Regions from separate parts of the Homo sapiens genome. Here region 2 is linked to region 1. The links come from fine-mapping of genetic effects on gene expression. Tissue or cell type: unexposed skin. Region 1 holds a variant in brackets; the other region holds the start of a gene. All regions are shown on one strand. Distances are between the middles of the regions.

Region 1 (4,230 bases):
CAGTGAGCCGAGATCATGCCATTGCACTCCAGCCTGGGCCACAGGGTAAGATTCCATTTCAAAAAAAAAATAATAATAATAGGCTGGGTGTGGTGGCTTACGCCTGTAATCCCAGCACTTTGGGAGGCCAAAGTGGGAGGATCACTTGACCTCAGGAGTTTGAAACCAGCCTGGGTAACACAGTGAGACCCTTGTCTCTAATAAAATAAAGAACAATACTTTAATAATAAAATAAAATAGGCCGGGCGTGGTGGCTCACGCCTGTAATCCCAACACTTTGGGAGGCCAAGGCAGTAGATCTCCTGAGGCCAGGAGTTTGAGACCAGCCTGACCAATGCGGTGAAATGCCATCTCTACTAAAAATACAAAAATTAGCTGGACGTGGTGGCGTGTGCCTGTAGTCCCAGCTACTCAGGAGGCTGAGACAGAATTGCTTGAACCCGGGAGGTGGAGGTTGCAGTGAGTCAAGATCGCACCACTGCACTCCACCCTGGGTGACAGAGCAAGACTCCGTCTCAAATAAACAAATAAATAAATAAACTCTATGACTCGGTTGCCCTGTTGGCAAAGACTGACTCAGGCCCCCTCCTGGCCCAAGCCCACCTTGACATCCCCCTGCGCCCCCCAGTTCTGAACCACCCTCTTTTTGGTTTCATAGAGTCTCCCATATTCTCTCCTGGGTCTTCTCTGTTCACCCTGCGGTGTCCCCAAGACCCCCTCATGGCAGACTCCAGGGCACCCAGAGCCCGAGCTCAGGGCTGGGTGCATGCGGCTGACCTTGATGGTGTCGTAGGCGCCGGTGATGAGCGCGATGAAGAGGCTGAGCACCATGTAGATGAAGAGGCTGATGAAGGAGTAAAGGTAGAGCTGGGAGAAGAGCCACACCAGGCTGCTGCGGCCCTGCTGCGCCTGCATGGCGGCGAACGTCACAAACATGTCGTCCCCATTGATGAGCGAGAACAGGCACTCAGACACCATGGAGAGTGAGCGGAACTGCCAGAGGGGCGGCGGGGTCAGAGGGAGCCAAGGCATGGCCAGGAACCGGGGGCTGGGGTCAGGCTGGGGTCCCATGCAAATGGCTAGGAGCTGGTGGCTGGGGCCCCACATGAATGGCCGGGTCCCGGGCTGCGGTCACCATGTGAATGGTCGGGTTCCAGGCTAGGGCCCCTGTGAATGGCCGGGTCCCAGGCTGGGGTCCCACGTGAATGGCCGGGACCCAGGCTGGGGTCCCACGTGAATGGCCGGGTCCCAGGCTGGGGTCACTATGTGAATGGCCAGGTCCCAGGCTGGGGTCCCATGTGAATGGCCGGGACCACGGGTCAATGACAGGGCCACAGGGCCGACCTAGGGTCTGGGTAGATAGAGCAGGAGGGGAGTAATTCAGGTCGAAATAGGGTCATCAACAACTGTGACAACAATAATGGCACAGGGTCAGTGTCAGGGTCACCAAGGACCACAGGGGACAGTGGACAGACTCCCAGCAGTCACCAAGGGGTCATCTGGGGGTCACAGTGTCAATGACAAGGTCACAGGGTCAATGTCAGGGACATCAGGGGTTAGATGTACCTTCACATGATAGGGCCCCAGCACGATCCAGCCACAGAAGCAGTAGCCCAGGTAGATGACAGCCACGCAGCAGCAGAAGCGCATGACGCTGGGCAGGGCCACCCGCAGTGTGGCGATGAGGATCTGGGTTGGGGCAGAGGGAGCCTCGTTGAGGGTGTGGCCACAACTCAGGTCAGCTGTGGGCACCCAGATGGGGGTGGGAGGGGCGGGGCCTTGCCGAGGGCACAGCCGGTGTGGTCATGGGAGCCAGTGGGTGCCTAGAGGGGGCGTGGCCACGTCTGAGGGGGTCCGAGGGCAACGCACGGCTAGACTCAGCTGGGTGGGCACAAAGGAGCAGGCTCCCGGGGCCCCGCGCAGGTGCAGTGACAGATATATCTGGTGTGGGCAGGTAGGAGGAGGAGGCTTGCAAGGGGCCATTGGCCGGGGCTGGTGAGGGCTGCGTGTGTAGGGATTTATTTGGAGGGTGTGGAGTAACCATGTGGAAGGCCCAGCTGCATGTGCAAAACTCACATTGTAGTTGTGGAAGAAGGTCAGGTAGCGGATCACGCCCACCCACACCAGCAGCGTCGAGGTGCCCAGGAGGATGCTGCAGACGTCGTAGCTCGCCAAGTTCTGCGGGTGGGAGCTGCGTCAACCTATCTGGCCCAGCCCTTCCTTTGGGGGGCCTGGGGGAGGATATGGCCCCGGATAGGCACTGACAGCAGGGATGGGACCTGGGGCCCAGGGTGTTGGCAGGACGCACCTTGGCCTCGATGCCGATCTTCATGATGGTGCCCGAGATGGTGAGCACATCGCTGGTGACGAGCAGGATGTACCAGCCATTGACAAATTCCAGCCGCTCCCACAGGCTGATGACCCGTCCCCGCTGCCGCCACATGAACCCCACAAACTCCTGCAGAAGGCAGGCGGGGTGAGGGCCTGACCAGGCACAGGACCCTCAAAGCCCTGGCTTTTATCGCCCCAGGGCCAGGCGGGGAGGACACCAGCACACATGACGCAGAAGCCTCACGTTCTGCAGCAGGAAGCC[T/G]CGAAGGAGTGAGCGGGCGCAGAGGAGGAAGGACAGGGAGCAGGTGAGGATGACCACCACGTCAAACAGGAGCCGGAAGCTGTTGTCTCCTGCGGGGAGGGCAGAGCGGGTAGGGCCAAGGATGGCATGGAGCCTTGGGAGGCTAGCATTGGTGCCAGGCCAGGCTGGAGACCTAGGGGGCTGCACGGCTGGTTTTGGTTGGTCAGTGGGCTCAGGGCTTGCTTGGGGTGAGTCAAGAACCCCGGTCAGTGCTGGTCTGGGGCTTGGGGGATCTCAGCACAGGACGGGGTCCCTGGTCTGTGCTGATCTGAGGCTCAGCGGATTCCTGGGGAGGTCACGGCCCCCAGGCAGCGCTGATCTGGGGCTTGGGGAATCCCAGGACAGGCCAGGGCCCCTGGTCAGTGCTGGTCTGGGGCTCAGGGGCTCACCGTGCTGGAAGACACTGGGGTGCTTACACTCCTGGATGTGGGCCTGGGTCTCCAGGCTGATGGGGATCCGCCCACTGTGTGCTTTGTTGTCAAACGTGATCTGTGGGGGCCAGTTGGGGGCAGAGTAAACCTTGGCAGCCCCAAGCCCCAAGGTCCACATGACAGGTGGCCTGACAGACCCCGGGCTCCCTCCCTCATCACCCGCACGCTTGCCCTTGGCCAGTGCTCCCAAGACACTCCCTGACCAGGTCCCTGCCCTGGAACTCAGGAGCCCTGTGGGTTCCCGGGGGGCCTCACCAGGACGCTGAAGGTATAGCAGTCCGGGATCTCATTATTGATGAGGCTCTGGAGGTTAATGGTCTTCAGCCGGAAGTGGATGGTGACATTGACCAGCCTAGGCAGGAGGCTCGGGTGAGGGTCAGGGGCGTCTTCGGGTCCCTTCCGGCCCCAAGTGCCAGCGTCCCCTGCCACGTGCTGACTCTGCAGCTGGCAGGGGAAGTGCTCACCCAGCAGGCACCAGCGCGGGCGGGGGGGCCCTGTCCCCACCTTAGGGAAGTAGTTGCTGGGGTGAGAGTGCCTAGTGTGCTGCCTCCCCCACCCTGGGCCCCCCTCGAGTGAGCAGGCAGTACTTGTGGAATTTGAGCGTGAGGTTCTTGTAACTGGAGCTGCTTTCCAAGAGGGTGAGATCGTCGCTGGGGGGCGGAGGGGGCCGCTCGGGGGGATCCACCTGGATGCAGTCTAAGGACAGGGAGTCAGGGAAGGGCCTCAGGGGGCCGGGGAGGCCAGGCTGGTCTCCCCAGAGTCCCCAGTGGCCTTCTTCCCTGTGCTTCCCCAGGGTTGGGTCATTCCTACAGGCCTGGCACTCTCTGGGCCTGCGGATGTTTTACTGAATGAGCCATATTAAAATATAACATCTGGTGCTTTCTACGTGGCAAGAGTCACACTCACACTAAGCATACTTGTTTTTTTTTTTTTTTTTTTTTTTTGAGACAGGGTCTCACTCTGTCACCCAGGGTGGAGTGCAGCAGCGTGGTCATAGCTTACTGCAGCCTCAACCTCCCGGACTCAAGCGATCCTCCTGCCTCAGCCTCCTGAGTAGCTGGGACCACAGGGGCACGCCACCACGCCCAGCTAATTTGTTTGTGCGTAGAGACAAGGTCTTCCTACGTGGCCCAGGCTGGTCTCAAACTTCTGGCCTCAAGCAATCCT
Region 2 (4,000 bases), 32 kb after region 1:
GAGTCTCACTCTGTCCCCCAGGCTGGAGTACAGTGGCACGATCTCAGCTCACTGCAACCTCCACCTCCTGGATTCAACTGACTCTCCTGCCTCAGCCTCCCAAGTAGCTGGGATAACAGGTACCTGCCACCATGCCCGTCTAAGTTTTGTATTTTTGGTAGAGACGGGGTTTCACCACATTGGTCAGGCTGGTCTCGAACTCCTGACCTCAAGTGATCTGTCTGCCTTGGCCTCCCAAAGTGCTGGGATGACAGGTGTGAGCCACTGTGCCCGGCCTGCCACGCACTTTCTTACTGGTTTTCCCCTGCTCTGCAGTTGTCCTAGGTCCTGCCTATTCTCAATCTCTTCCTGTCTTCACACCTTCTGAGAGTTAGCTCTCTCCTCTGACCTTCAGCTTCAGACTCCAAGCCTCCCCTGACCCTCCGCCTCTGCTCAGTCACCTGGGACTTTCTTGCCTTTGCTTAGATCACAAGTGTCTCCCATGCTCTCCTCTCTGTCTCCCTTGGAGACCAGCATTCCAAGTTCTCAGGCTCACCTCTTGCAGGAAGACCTCCCAGATCACTTCAACCCACAAAACCTGCTTACCTCTACCTATTTAGAAAACATGGATCAGACGGGTGCAGTGGCTCAGGCCTATAATCCCAGCACTTTGGGAGGCCGAGGTGGGCAGATCTCCTGAGGTCGGAGTTCAAGACCAGCCTGACCAACATGGAGAAACCCCATCTCTACTAAAAATACAAAATTAGTCAGGCGTGGTGGCGCATGCCTGTAATCCCAGCTACTCCAGAGGCTGAGGCAGGAGAATAGCTTGAACCCAGGAGGCAGAAGTCGTGGTGAGCCAAGATTGCGCCATTGCACTCCAGCCTGGGCAACAAGAGCGAAACTCTGTCTCAAAAAAAAAAAAAAAAAAAAGAAAAAAATACAAAAATTAGCTGGGCATGGTAGTATGCACCTGTCATCCCAGCTACTCAGAAGGCTGAGGCGGGAGAACCGCTTGAACCTGGGTGGCAGAGGTTGCAGTGATCCGAGACCACGCTACCGCACTCCAGCCTGGGTGACAGAGCGAAACCCCATCACAAAAATAGAAAGAAAACATGGATGAAGGGTGTGTGTGTGTGTGTGTGTGTGTGTGTGTATGTGTGTGTGTGTGTTTTAATGAAACCACAGTTTTTCAGTGTGTAAGTTTGTTGCTTTTTTTTTTTTCTCAGCTCACTGCAACCTCTTCCTCCTGGATTCAAGCGATTCTCCCACCTCAGCCTCCAGAGTAGCTGGGACTGTAGGTGTCCGCCACCACGCCCGGCCAATTTTTGTATTTTTAGTAGAGACGGGGTTTCGCCATGTTGGCCAGCCTGGTCTCGAACTCCTAGCCTCAGGTGATCCACCCTCCTCGGCCTCCCAAAATGCTGGGATTACAGGCATGAGCCACCGCGCCTGGCTGAGTTTGCTGCTTTTTGAATCATTTGCCCCCTGCAATAGTTGAGAGTTGAATATGACCTCCAAAATGGGTCATCAGAGAATCCAACAACTGAGACTACTAGCCAGGTAATCTTGGAATAAGTCATTAAGCTCCCATGAGCCTCAGTTTTCACCTCTGTACATCAGGGACGAGGACAGTGCACCTACCTCAAGGGATGGCGTGTGAATCAATGAGTTTTAGAAAATTCACTTAGCTACAGACCAGATCTTTGGGTCTCCCTCTGTCCCTGGTCTCTCAGAGGATCCTCATGTTCCTTCCCAGGCTGCATCCAAGGGTGGTCCAGCCCTGCGCATTGTGACCCCAAGAGCTTCCTTTGTGTAATGATACTGTCACAATGACCACTCAGCACCTCTAGGGGCAGCCGGGAGGAAAATTAGCAGGCAGGCTTGGTGCGAATACTGCCTCCTTAGAGCTCCAGGAACCCAGGCAAGTAATTGACTTTTTGGAGCCTCTGGGGTTTTGTTCGGTTGGTTTTGTTTTTGAGGTAAGCTCTCGCTATGTTGCCCAGGCTGGACTTGAAGTCCTGGGCTCAAGCGATCCTCTCGCCTCAGCCTCCCAAGTGGGTGGGTCCACAGGTGTGTGCCACCATGCCTGGCTAGGACTTAGGTTTTGTCATCTGCAAAAGGGGACTAATGATGGTAGCCAGTTCAGAAAGCAGTGTCAGTATTGAGGATTTGATTAAATAGGCTGCTGGTGTCCATTATTATTATCATCCTCTAAAGTTTTTCTGTCCCTCTACCTTCTACACACCCCACACAGAATGGACCCACTTCCCTGAATCACTGCACCTCTTGATATTATTCTAGGGCTCACAGATCTCCCTTTAAAGGGGCCGGTCACCCCTCCTTCCCCAGTCAAAGACCACCAGGAATGTACCTGTGATTGAACACATTCAAGCTTATTATTCATCAGAGAGAGAGAGAGAAAGAAAGAGAGAGGGAGAGAGAGCTCATACATGTCATAGGGCACTATGGCGGTCTCAGTAGGGAGGTGTTAGAAAGAACTTTTTTTCGCTATTTATTTATTTATTTATTTATTTGAGATGGAGTTTCGCTCTTGTTGCCCAGGCTGGGGTGCAGTGGCACGATCTCAGCTCATCGCAACCTCCGGCTTCAAGTGATTCTCCTGCCTCAGGCTCCCGAGTAGCTGGGATTATAGGCATGTGCCACCACACCCAGCTAATTTTGTATTTTTAGTAGAGATGGGGTTTTTCCATGTTGGTCAGGCTGGTTTCGAATTGCCGACCTCGGGTGATCCGCTCGCTTCAGTCTCCCGAAGTGCTGGGATTATAGGCGTGAGCCACCACGCCCGGCCAGAAAGCACTTATTATGGGATTTGCAATTCTGCTCGGTGTTTTGGGGGCACAGCTTAAGGAAGTAGGGGATTTGGGTGGGATGAATTTATTGGTTGGAAATTTTACTTTCTTTTTTGAGATGAGCAGATAAAAACAAATAAAAACAACACACAGGTGAGGCATGGTGGCTCACATTTGTAATCTCAGCCTCCCAAAGTAGCGTCCAGAAAAGGGCTGTTGTGGCTTGGTGTGGTGGCTCACGCCTGTAATCCCAGCACTTTGGGAGGCCAAGGTGGGTGGATCACTTGAGGTCAGGAGTTTGAGACCAGCCTGGCGAACACGGTGAAACCCTGTCTCTACTGAAAATACAAAAATTAGCCGGGCGTGGTGGCTCACGCCTGTAATCCCCGCTACTCAGGAGGCTGAGGCAGGCGGATCTCCTTTGGTCAGGAGTTCGAGGCCAGCCTGGCCAACATGGTGAAACCCTGTCTCTACTAAAAATATAAAAAATAGCCGGGTGTGGTGGCGGGCACCTGTATTCCCAGCTACTCAGGAGCCTGAGGCAGGAGAATTGCGTGAACCCAGGAGGCGGAGGTTGCAGTGAGCTGAGATCACGCCATTGCACTCCAGCCTGGGAGACAAGAGCAAAACTCTGTCTCAAAGAAAAAAAAAACTAGCTGGGCATGGTGGCGGGCACCTGTAATCCCAGCTACTCAGGAGGCTGAGGCAGGAGAATCGCTTGAACCCAGGTGGTGGAGGTTGCAGTGAACTGAGATCGTGCCACTGCACTCCAGCTTGGGCCACAGAGCAAAACTCTGTCTCAAAAAAAAAAAAAGAAGCAAGGGCGGCTGAGTGCAGTGCCTCAGGCCTGTAATCCCATCACTTTGAGAGGCTGAAGCGGGAGGACTGCTTGAGCCCAGGTGTTTGAGACCAGCCTGGGCAACACAGTGAGACCCTATCTCTATAAAAAATTAAAAAGCCAGGTGCGGTGGCGCGTGCCTATAGTCCCAGCTACTTGGGAGGCTAAGGTGGGAAGATTTCTTGAACCCAGGACATTGAGGTTGCAGTGAGGGTGCAGTGAGCTATGATTCCGCCACTGCACTCCAGCCTGGGTGACAGAGTGAGACTCTGTCTCAGAAACAACACAAAACAAAAGAGCAGCTAGGGAGAGAAGTAACTATTATTCAGCATCTTAATCATCTGTATGAAGAAGTCAGAAGGAAGGAAGG

What was found. PIP is the estimated chance that this variant, and not a neighbour inherited with it, causes the effect.
Region 2: it holds the start of SAXO5, and the variant in region 1 is the best candidate, but not a certain one, in a credible set for the expression of SAXO5 in unexposed skin (GTEx, PIP 0.85).

Annotation. Positions count from the first base shown.
Region 1 is chr19:7,527,049-7,531,278 of GRCh38, reverse strand. It overlaps MCOLN1 (mucolipin TRP cation channel 1), which reads right to left. Exons shown (of 14, transcript NM_020533.3): 5 at 3,651-3,759; 6 at 3,319-3,415; 7 at 3,022-3,121; 8 at 2,576-2,682; 9 at 2,309-2,458; 10 at 2,077-2,178; 11 at 1,567-1,689; 12 at 778-993. Among named protein-coding and RNA genes, the nearest start is that of MCOLN1, 6.5 kb to the right of the region's middle. The variant T/G (reference allele first, on the strand shown) is at 2,594.
Region 2 is chr19:7,495,306-7,499,305 of GRCh38, reverse strand. It overlaps SAXO5 (stabilizer of axonemal microtubules 5), which reads right to left and starts at 1,758. Exons shown (of 9, transcript NM_198534.3): 1 at 1,624-1,758.